Linked DNA regions of Homo sapiens: region 1 is linked to region 2. The links come from fine-mapping of genetic effects on gene expression. A gene starts in region 2. The other region holds a variant in brackets. All regions are shown on one strand. Distances are between the middles of the regions. Region 1 overlaps JUP (junction plakoglobin). Region 2 holds the start of JUP (junction plakoglobin).

The links. PIP is the estimated chance that this variant, and not a neighbour inherited with it, causes the effect.
Region 1: its variant is fine-mapped to the expression of JUP in whole blood (TOPMed, PIP above 0.99).

What each region holds. Positions count from the first base shown.
Region 1 is chr17:41,757,874-41,763,171 of GRCh38, reverse strand. It overlaps JUP (junction plakoglobin), which reads left to right. Exons shown (of 14, transcript NM_002230.4): 8 at 1-189; 9 at 4,302-4,457; 10 at 4,654-4,773. Among named protein-coding and RNA genes, the nearest start is that of HAP1, 26 kb to the right of the region's middle. The variant T/G (reference allele first, on the strand shown) is at 2,099.
Region 2 is chr17:41,783,713-41,789,079 of GRCh38, reverse strand. JUP (junction plakoglobin) reads left to right here and starts at 2,369. Exons shown (of 14, transcript NM_002230.4): 1 at 2,369-2,492. RefSeq lists silencers at 2,401-2,700, 2,865-3,077.

The DNA.
Region 1 (5,298 bases), 26 kb after region 2:
GCTCTCATCCATGCCATCCTGCGTGCTGGTGACAAGGACGACATCACGGAGCCTGCCGTCTGCGCTCTGCGCCACCTCACTAGCCGCCACCCTGAGGCCGAGATGGCCCAGAACTCTGTGCGTCTCAACTATGGCATCCCAGCCATCGTGAAGCTGCTCAACCAGCCCAACCAGTGGCCACTGGTCAAGGTACTGCTGTTAGGCGAGGGGAAGGAGCTCCCTGCAGCAGGCTTAGGTGCTGTATTGGTATAGGCAAAGCCGCTGTAGCAAAGAAGCCCTAAATACAGTGGCTCGAATAAGACAGAAGTTTATTTCTCTCTCGTGTAATAGTTTAGACCTCAACAATGGCTCTGCTCTAAAATTCCAGAATTGGGATTTCTATCTTGTAGCTCTACCAGCCCCTAGGGCAGAGCTCAGAGTTCAAAATGCACATGAGTACCCTGGGTGGTTTCATTAAATTGCAGGTTCCAGGGCCAGGCACGGTGGCTCATGCCTGTAATCCCAACACTTTGGGAGGCAAAGGTAGGAGGATTGCTTGAGGCCAGGAATTTGAGACCAGCCTGGACAACATAGCAAGACCTGTCTCGACAACAATAACAACAACAGAAATTAGCCAGGTGTGGTGGTGCACGCCTGTGGTCCCAGCTACTGGGGAGGGGAGGCTCAGGTCGGAGGATCGCTTGAGCACAGGAGTTGGAGGTTACAGTGAGCTATGATTGCATCAGTGCACTCCAGCCTGGGTGACAGAGCAAGAACCCGTGTCTTAAAAGAAAAGAAAAACAGGAGGCTGGGTGCAGTGGCTCACATCTGTAGTTCCAGCACTTTGGGAGGTGCAGGCAGAGGCGGAAGCGGAAGGATCACTTGAGGCCAGGAGTTTGAGACCATCGTGGGTAACATAGTGAGACACCCATCTCTTACAAAAAATTTGGAAAAAAAAAAAAGCCCAAACAAATAAACAATCTAAAACACACACACACACACACACACACACACACTCTCTCTCTCTCTCTCTCTCTCTCTCTCTCTCTCTCTCTCTCTCTCTCTCTCTGTCTCTCTGCAGGCCTGCTGCAGAGGGCTTGCCATTCTGTATGTCTTTTTTTTGTTGTTTTGAGACAATGTCTATTGCCCAGGCTGGAGTGCAGTGGTACATTCTTGGCTCACTGCAACCTCTGCTTCCCGGGTTCAAGTGATTCTCCTGCCTTGGCCTCCTGAGTAGTTGGGATTACAGGTGCACGCCACCATGTCTGGATAATTTTTGTATTTTTAGTAGAGATGGGATTTTGCCATGTTGCTCAGACTGATCTTGAACTCCTGAACTCAAGTGATCCACCAGCCTCAGCCTCCCAAAGTACGGGGATTACAGGTGTGAGACACCAGGCCCGGACAATTCTGTATTTCTTCTTTTTTTTTTTTTTTTTGAGACGGAGTTTTGCTCTTATTGCCCAGGCTGGAGTGCAATGGTGCGATCTCGGCTTACTGCAACCTCCGCCTCCCGGGTTCAAGCGATTCTCCTGCATTTTTTAGTAGAGACGGGATTTCTCTATGTTGGTTAGGCTGGTCTTGAACTCCTGACTTCTGGTGATCCACCCACTTTGGCCTTCCAAAGTGCTAGGATTACAGGTGTGAGCCACTGCACCTGGCCCAATTCTGTATTTTTAACAAGCTCGCAGGTGCTGCTCCATGGAGCACATTTCTTATGCCACTGGGTGTAGACGAGAGGGTTGTCCTCACACGAATGAGTGGACTGTATCATCCCCACGGATGTGTTCTAGCCCTGAGAACTGGGGATGGCTAGCGGCCACCAGAAAGTGGCACACATCACTCCTGCTCACACCCCAGAACTTGGTCATTCAGCCACATCAAGGTGCAAGGAGGTTAGGAAGTGTGATCACCAGCCAGATGGCCGTGTGTCCTGCTGAAAATCAGGAGAGCCACTACAGAGACACAGGGCACAGAGGATTCTGGGGACGCTTAGCATCTCCCATAGGGAGTTGGGTGTGTGAAGGAGTGGGGTCTTCTTCTTGAGGCTACCTGGGTGGAAGAGAGCTAGCTGTGTGTCACTTCCCTGTCAGGTGGGGGAAGTGAGAGTGGGTCAGGG[T/G]GTGGGCAGACCCAAGGGACAGAGTTATGGGGGAAAGCGTTTGTGTGTGTGTATATCTATATGTAGAGACAAGGAAGGCAGCCAAAGGCAAGGTGGCATCTGGTGCCAGAGAGTGAGGAAGCTACCATCGATGAGGGTCTTGTCAACGGGCACAGGAGCCAGCTGGCAGGGGCATCCGCCAGCTACATTTAAGACAATTTAATAGTACAGACAGGCCAGGCGCAGTGGCTCACGCCTGTAATCCCAGCACTTTGGGAGGACGGGGCGGGAGGATTACCTGAAGTTAGGAGTTCGAGACCAGCCTGGCCAACATAGTAAGTCCCCGCCTCCACAAAAAATACAAAAATTAGCTGGCCATGGTGGCATGTGCCTGTAATCTCAGCTACTCGGAAGGCTGAGGCAGAAGAATTACTTGAACCCGGAAGGCAGAGGTTGCAGTGAGCTGAGATCGCTCATTGCACTCCAGCCTGGGTGACAGAGAGAGACTCCGTCTTGGAAAACAAAAACAAAAAACATGGCCAGGCGTGGTGGCTCACGCCTGTAATCCTAGCACTTTGGGAGGCCGAGGCGTGTGGATCACGAGGTCAGGAGATCGAGACCATCCTGGCTAACACGGTGAAACCCCATCTCTACTAAAAAAATACAAAGAAATTAGCCAGGCGTGGTGGCGGGCGCCTGTGGTCCCAGCTACTCAGGAGGCTGAGGCAGGAGAATGGTGTGAACCCGGGAGGCGGAGCTTGCAGTGAGCTGAGATCGCGCCACTGCACTCCAGCCTGGGCGACAGAGCGAGACTCCGTCTCAAAAAAAACAAACAAAAAAACAAACAAACAAAAAAAACCCAGTGCAGATAAGAATGACTCTAAGTGATTCTACACATTGAATTATTATTTTTTATTATTATTATTATTTTTGAGACAGATTCTTGCTCTGTTGCCCAGGCTGGAGTGCAGTGGCATGATCTCAGCTCACTGCAACCTCCGCCTCCCAGGTTCAAGCAATTCCCGGCTAATTTCTGTATTTTTAGTAGAGACGTGGTTTCACCATGTTGGCCAGGCTGGTCTCGAACTCCTGACCTAAAGTGATCTGCCTGCCTTGGCCTCCCAAAGTGCTAGGATTACAGGCGTGAGCCACTGCGCCCGGCCTATACATTGAATTAAAAAAAGAAAATTCATGTTTAGAAAAAAAAATGTCATTGTGACCCCTCCTTGATGCTTGGTCCCTGCTGCAAACCTGAGGTGGGACTTTGCATCCTAACCCAGCAGCTAAGTGGCAAGTGACTTTGGCAAGTCATTTGCCCTGTGCTCACGTCCCCATCTCACATGATTTTCATCCCTGTCCTCCTGGCGTCTTGTTTTGAGGATGAAATAGATGACACCTTGAGAGGCTCTGGGAGGCCAGAGTGGCTCCTCTGAGTCAAAGACCCTGGGGAGGAGATCTCAGGACACCTCTTTCCAGAGCTGCCCTGCTGGGGATTAATGACAATGTGAGCACCACCCAAGCAGGAGGCTTCGGGGGCACCTAGAGCACAGAATTCCTGAGAATCAGGCTTGGAGGACTATCAGAAAAGCAAGCAAGGTCATGGTGTCTGTGGGGGGTGGTTAAGAAAGAGGGGACAGGGTGAGGGGCCAGGCATGGGGCTGGCAGGATGTTCTGGAATGGGGTGTCATTTTAGCAAGGGCTATTAGAATTAGCCATGAGCAGCCGGACGTGGTAGCCCACACCTGTAATCCCAGCACTTTAGAAGGCAGAAGCAGGCGGATCACCTGAGGTCAGGGGTTCGAGGCCAGCCTGCCCAACATGGCGAAACCCCGTCTCTACTAAAAATACAAAAAATTAGCTGGGCATGGTGGCAGGCACCTGTAATCGCAGCTACTCAGGAGGCTGAGGCAGGAGAATCGCTTGAACCCAGGAGGTGGAGGTTGCAGTGAGGTGAGATTGCACCACTGCACTCCAGCCTGGGTGACAAGAGCGAAACTCTGTCTCAAAAAAAAAAAAAAAAAAGAATTAGCCATGAGCACTCCCAGATCCTGTGGATTAAGTGACATGGCTGGGATGGTCTCCTTCTCTGGATATTTTCCAGTATGTCTGTGTCTGGCCTCGGGGACAGAAGAGGTGAAGGAGGGAAGGGATACTTGAAGCTGGGAAGCTGGGATCCTTCAGATGTCCAAGAAGTGCCCCTGATCACTGCCCCTTTTTTTGCCAGGCAACCATCGGCTTGATCAGGAATCTGGCCCTGTGCCCAGCCAACCATGCCCCGCTGCAGGAGGCAGCGGTCATCCCCCGCCTCGTCCAACTGCTGGTGAAGGCCCACCAGGATGCCCAGCGCCACGTAGCTGCAGGCACACAGCAGCCCTACACGGTATGTGAGCTGGTGGTGCCTCTGACAGCCTTCCTGGGGGGTCAGGGTGTCCTCTGTGGGTGTGTGTGTGAATGGGGAGGTCAGTTGCAACTGATGCCAATTCCAAGAACCTGTGAAGTTCATTCGGCTGTCATGGGGAGGAGTTGTGGCCATGTCCAAGGCACCTGTCCCATGCCCCCTGCCTCCTCTCACACAGGATGGTGTGAGGATGGAGGAGATTGTGGAGGGCTGCACCGGAGCACTGCACATCCTCGCCCGGGACCCCATGAACCGCATGGAGATCTTCCGGCTCAACACCATTCCCCTGTTTGTGCAGGTGAGTCTGGGGCAGGTGGGCAGGAGAGGTCCCCCCACCACTGCTTAAAGGGCAAGGTTAGGAGTCCCAGATTTGGGAGGCCTGGACCAGGTATCAAGAGGTCTTTGGAGGAGTTTGGAGGAAAGTTGCCACTCCAGATTGACTACTTAGCAACCCCCTGCATGGGCATGGCTTTCTAAGCTTCAAAGCAAGGAAAGAGATCACAAATGGAAAAAAAAAACAAAAAACAAAAAAACTTGAGATTCAACCATATAAACATGAAAACCATCTGTATTTCAGAAAGAACCTAAAAAAGCATTTTTAAAAAATCAGCAAACTGGGAGAATATGTGCAAGTACCATAACAGACAAGAAGAGTCTAACATCTTTCACATCAGTGAGCTCATTAACACTAGATTCCAATGGTTAGATGAGGCAGAGTCACAGGTAATTTCAAGGTAGCTCATGAACAATGCTCAGCCCAGTTTAAAGCAGTAACACTTACTCCCCAGTGACGGCCCATTTTCCACTATGGAATTGCTACAGG
Region 2 (5,367 bases):
GGAGAGTTGAGGAAACAGGCAAAGGGCGGTGGCCCTGGTTATGGGATGGCCACTAGTTCAGGGATGTCCGTATCTCCCTGGCCCTGCTTTTGGATGGCGCAACTTCAGAAGGGAGAATGTTCAGCTACCATTCTTTTCTCTGGTGGGGAAAGTGGTCAAGGTTGCTGCTAAGGTACCTTCATCCAGCCCATCCTGTGTGCTAGCTTTGGGGCTGTAGAGCTTTGTTGATGGGGGACCCTTTTCTAAACCACCACTCCTCCAAAACCCACCCACACACGCTGCTTCTGCTTATCCTTCTATGAGCTCTTTGAAGGTTGGGATCATTTTTATTTCCTGTGTCACCAGGTTTTATTTTCTGTGTTCACCAGTGCCTAACATACAGTTGACAATGAATACTCAAGTGTTGAATGAAGGAATGTTTGTAGGGCCCTTGGCACACCATACAGCCACGAGCAGCATTCATGTCATCAACCACAGAAAGGAAGTGCCCTTGTCTTCTTAAGCTGCCTGTGAGAAGTCCTTTTTATTTTTTTGAGACAGAGTCTCACTCTGTCACCCAGGCTGGAGTGCAATGGCATGATCTCAGCTCACTGCAACCTCTGCCTCCCGGGTTCACGCCATTCTCCTGCCTCAGCCTCCCGAGTAGCTGGCATTACAGGTGCCCGCTGCCATGCCTGGCTAATTTCTGTATTTTCAGTAGAGATGGGGTTTCACCATGTCGGCCAGGCTGGTCTCGAACTCCTGACCTCAAGTGATCTGCCCACCTTGGCCTCCCAAATTGCTGGGATTACAGGCATGAGCCACCACGCCTGGCCGAGAAGTTCTCTCTGATCTCTACCCCAGGCTCTCCTATCGCAGAGGGGTGTGCTGCCCGGTTTATTTTTTTCTTTTCTTTTTTTTTTTTTTGTTTGAGATGGAGTCTCGCTCTGTCATGCCCAGGCTGGAGTGCAGTGACATGGTCTCGGCTCACTGCAACCTCCGCCTCCCAGGTTCAAGCAATTCTCCTGCCTCAGTCTCCCAGGCAGCTGGGATTATAGTTGCCCGCCACCACGCTCGGCTAACTTTTTGTATTTTTTGTAGAGATGGGGCTTCACCATATTGGCCAGGCTGGTGTTGAACTCCCGACCTCAGGTGATCCACCCGCCTTTGCCTCCCAAAATGCTGAGATTACAGGAGTGAGCCACTGCGCCTGGCCTGCCCCGTTTCTTTCATGCCAGGGCTGGATTTCCTTCAGATCTGCTGCTTGATGTTTCCAAGCCCACCAAAGCCTCCTGACACCAATACTGTATTTTTGTGCCAATTAATTGTTCTGTCTCTCCTCCAAGTGTTTGTGCCTTTTCTCTGCCCCTTCCCCATTGCCTTGACATTTTATGTCTATGCTCCTCTTCCATGAGGGGAACAGCTGGTTTGATGGTCCTTCAAATGAGAGGAAGGAGGTTCTAGCTTGGGGTGTGCCACTTTGTAGTTTTGTGACTTCTCTGAACTTCGGTTTCTTCATCTTTACAATGAGGGTCGTTTTCTCATCCTAACTATTTTTCAGAGCTGTCACAATAATTAAAAAAAAACATACCGTTAATTTAAATTTCTAACCTTTAGCAGTTTCTGAGTGCTTTCACAAACCTGACCTCATTTAATCCCCACATACTCCAGTGAGGTAGATATGGCTAATGTATCCAGTTTACAGAAGAGGAGAAACAGGGTGAAGTAACTTGCCTAAAATCATACCAAGTGGGAGAAGACCAAACCTGGCCTTCTAATTCTAAATCCCAGGAGTACTCCATCTTTCGGGAAAAAAATCCCACCCCAGCACAAAGCCTATGAAATGCTATACAAATATGTGATTACTACTTTGGGGCAAGGATGAATAAGCCCAAAGAAGCATCATGCCTGACGCTGAGTTGGCTGGCCGGTGAAGGCGTCTGTCCCTTCCCTTGGTATCCCTATGACTTACCTGTTGGACAGGTAGGGGGAAGGGGAGAGTAATGAGTCTCACCTGCTCAGAGCAAGGGTGGGGCAAGACACACCCCATCCCTTCCATTGGTTTTTTCCTTAGTCTTACTGACAGAGCCTTGTCCAATCAGGAGGAAGTAACTTTCTATCTGCCAATAGATGCAATGTTAGGATGAGACCTCAAGTTAGAGTCCATCCCTAGAGCCGACTGGCAGTCCCCGGGGCCAATGGCAAGCGGATAAACAGAGGCGGCCGTGGAAGAGGACTGGAGGCGAGGCTCCGCCCCTCCACGGGACAGTCAGGCGAGATAGCCAGTGAGCTCGCACCAGAGGGTGGGCGTCTCCCCCAGGGGCGGAGCTTCGAGGTGGCGAGGGGCGTGGCTTGGCTGTCAGGTCTCTTCGCCTTTTGTTCGGTTACTGAGTTGCTGCCTTGGCCAGAGTCCGGAGCAGCCGCCGCCCGACCACGCCGAGCTCAGTTCGCTGTCCGCGCCGGCTCCCACCCCGGCCCGACCCCGACCCGGCCCGGTCAGGCCCCATACTCAGGTGCGGGCTATCGGGGGCGCAGGTATCGTTGGGGACAGAGGGGTGGCGAGCGGCCGCGGGGCCGGTCCCAGCCGTCCCTGGGCAGGTGAGGGCCGGTGCCATCGAGCGCCACCCTGCACCGGCGGCAGGGGGCGCGCTGGGGTCCTGGGCGCGGCGACTTGGGGGTCGCGCGGTTCGGGCCGAGCGCGCCTCGGAGCTCCGCGAACCAGAGATCTGAGCAAGGCGGGGAGGGATCCGGACAGGTGCCTCCGGGGTCGCGCCTCCCCCGGGGCCCGCGCAGCTCGCCCGACGCCGCGTCCCTGACTCTCGCCCTGGGCTGGCGGGGGAGACTTTGCTCTGCTTCGACTGCGTCCCAGGGCTCACGCTGCAGTCAGGAATTTACCGTTTGGGGAACTTGCTGCCGCTGGTCTCTTTGGGGCCACCCTCACCCCACCCCACGCGTCATCCTCGCTTTCCCTCCCTCCCTACTCCCCCAGGCCTGGGTGGGGCCCTATTGTTTGCGCCCAGCTTGCCCAACTGTGGGGGCCGAGCGCACATTTTCCCAGCGACTCTGGCCCCACCTGCCGAGCAGGTGAGCGCACGGAGTCCAGAGGCCCTGCCCTCCAGCTCCCAGAGCCTCGTCGATACTACCTGCGGCGCCTCCCTCCACGCCGGTGGGAGCCCGGCTCTGGCTTCTTCAGCGGAGGTGGGATGGAGTGACTGGGGGGTGCAGGGCTCGGCTCAGTGTCCAGCTGGTGTCTGGCACCCGTGGCTCGCCCTGGGGTCTGGGGGGTGGGGTCTGTGCACGGATGAAGAATTCAGGGTCACCTGGCCCAGTTTCCAGTAGCTGTGGCTGCCAGAGTGTTGGTAGGGGAACAGGACCCGTCTTCTCTAACCTCTTATTGTTGGAAAAAATCACCCAAAACAAACTTTGCAGGAGGAAGTATTCACAGCAGCTTTATCTGGGGGTTTTCCCGTCTCCTTGCCCAAAACTTCCTTTAGGCTTAGGGGGTCCTTCCTGGTGCAAAACCCCTTCCCCCAGCCGGCCCCTGGCTGAACCTGGGCCGGTGCCTGGGCTCCGACCCTGTCTTCCCTGCCCCCACATTCATCCTGTTCGCTGGGCCCCAGGGGCCTGAGGTAGGGGCCGGGGTGGGGGGTGGAAAGTGCTGAGAGGGGAAGCAGCTTCTTCCTTCTCTTCCTGCCTCCTGGGACCACCACACCCCCTCAGACAAGGCCTGCGTAAGTGGTTGTCTCTCAAGCTCTGCCCCCTCCCCAGGAATGGGGGTGGGGCAGGGCTGGGCCAAACTGAGGAAGGTGGGGGGAGTGGTTGTTCTTGTCTTTTTTTTTTTGCCTCTACCCCATCCCCCACATTACTTAGCTGGCTGGTTATTGAGGCAGAAGCGCATGAGGCTGTGGGACTTGCCTTCCATTTGATTTCTGAATTGTGAAGGTGCATGCTTTCTGGAGGCCTGCACAGACCTTTCCCACCCGCTTTCCTGAAAGAATTTGACAGGGAAAGTGAGACCGCAGGAAGGCTTTTTGGGGGAAGGTTTCTTCAATGCTAGACTCTCTCAGGCAGAGCTGCATCGGGCCCCCTGCCTTCCCTGCTCCCAATTTCCTGAGACCGCCCCCCCCCACCCAGAATTGGGGATCTTGATCAGGGTTTGTACCCCGGTTTAAAAAAAAAATCTGAAATGTGGTCTTTTTGCAGGATTTGGAGCCCAGCCTCGTTGGGGAACAGAGAGAGAATACAACAGTTGGGTTCTCTCTCAGTCCTGGGGGTGGGAGAAAGATTGTGGGGGGCGGGGATCGAGAGTGCTTGGAGGGGAAGAGTCTACCACCTCTTTCTTTGTTGTAGATGGGGGAGTGAGGCTGGGGGCCCAGACTCAGCCCCTTTATCCTGGGTGGGGATCACGCTCAGCCCTGTGCTAGGGGGAAGTCAGTGTGGGAACTCAGATCCTTTTCTGCCGGGGGATGGGATTCTGCACCTCTGGGGAGCAACAGGAGCAGGGAGTTTGGGCAAAAATAACCTGCTTTCCCTCTTCTCTGTGCCAAGGTGGAGGAGGGGAGGGCATTGTAATTATGTTGGCTACATGATTAGTTTAGCTAATCTGGTTTGTGGCTGTGATGAAAAGATAATACTGAGGAAGTACTGCTAGGAGGTGCTTGGTGAAAACTGGCCACTGACTGGACTGGGGGATGCGGGGGAGGAGGAGAAGGTAGGACCCAGTTAGTCATTTCTTGCTAGATCAAGCCCCAGCTTGGGTGACTTGAGCCCTCCCACCCCCACTCCACCCCTCCCTTGCACCCTGGCTCCACCCCATTCCCTCTGGAGCCTCTGTTTGGGCTGCCAGGGCCGAGGCTTTGAGAATGCAGTGCATAGGAACGAAAAAGGTCGGGCTAGGGCTGCCAACCTTTTTCCCATCCTGGAGCCACCTTAGAGTGAGATGGGTCAATTGACTAGTCTACAGAAGGACTGTTTATTTGGAGAGATGGGACAGTGGGGCAGTTCTGAGCACAGGGCTTTGGGCTTGAACTGAGCTGGGTTTGAGACCCAGCTCTGTCTCTCATTACCTGAGCCTCAGTGACCTCTTTGGCAAAATGGGAATACTAATACCTATCTACCCAGTAAGTACTTGACAAACGGTAACTCAAGATCAAGGTAAGACTTTACAGAAACCAAGCACTTTCTTTTTTTTTTTTTTTTTTTTTTTTGAGATGGAGTCTCGCTCTGTCACCCAGGCTCACTGCAACCTCCGCCTCCTGGGTTCAAGTGATTCTCCTGCCTCAGCCTCCTGAGTAGCCAGGATTACAGGCGTGTGCCACCACCCCCGGCTGATTTTTGTATTTTTAGTAGAGACAGGGTTTCACCATGTTGCGCAGGCTGGTCTTGATC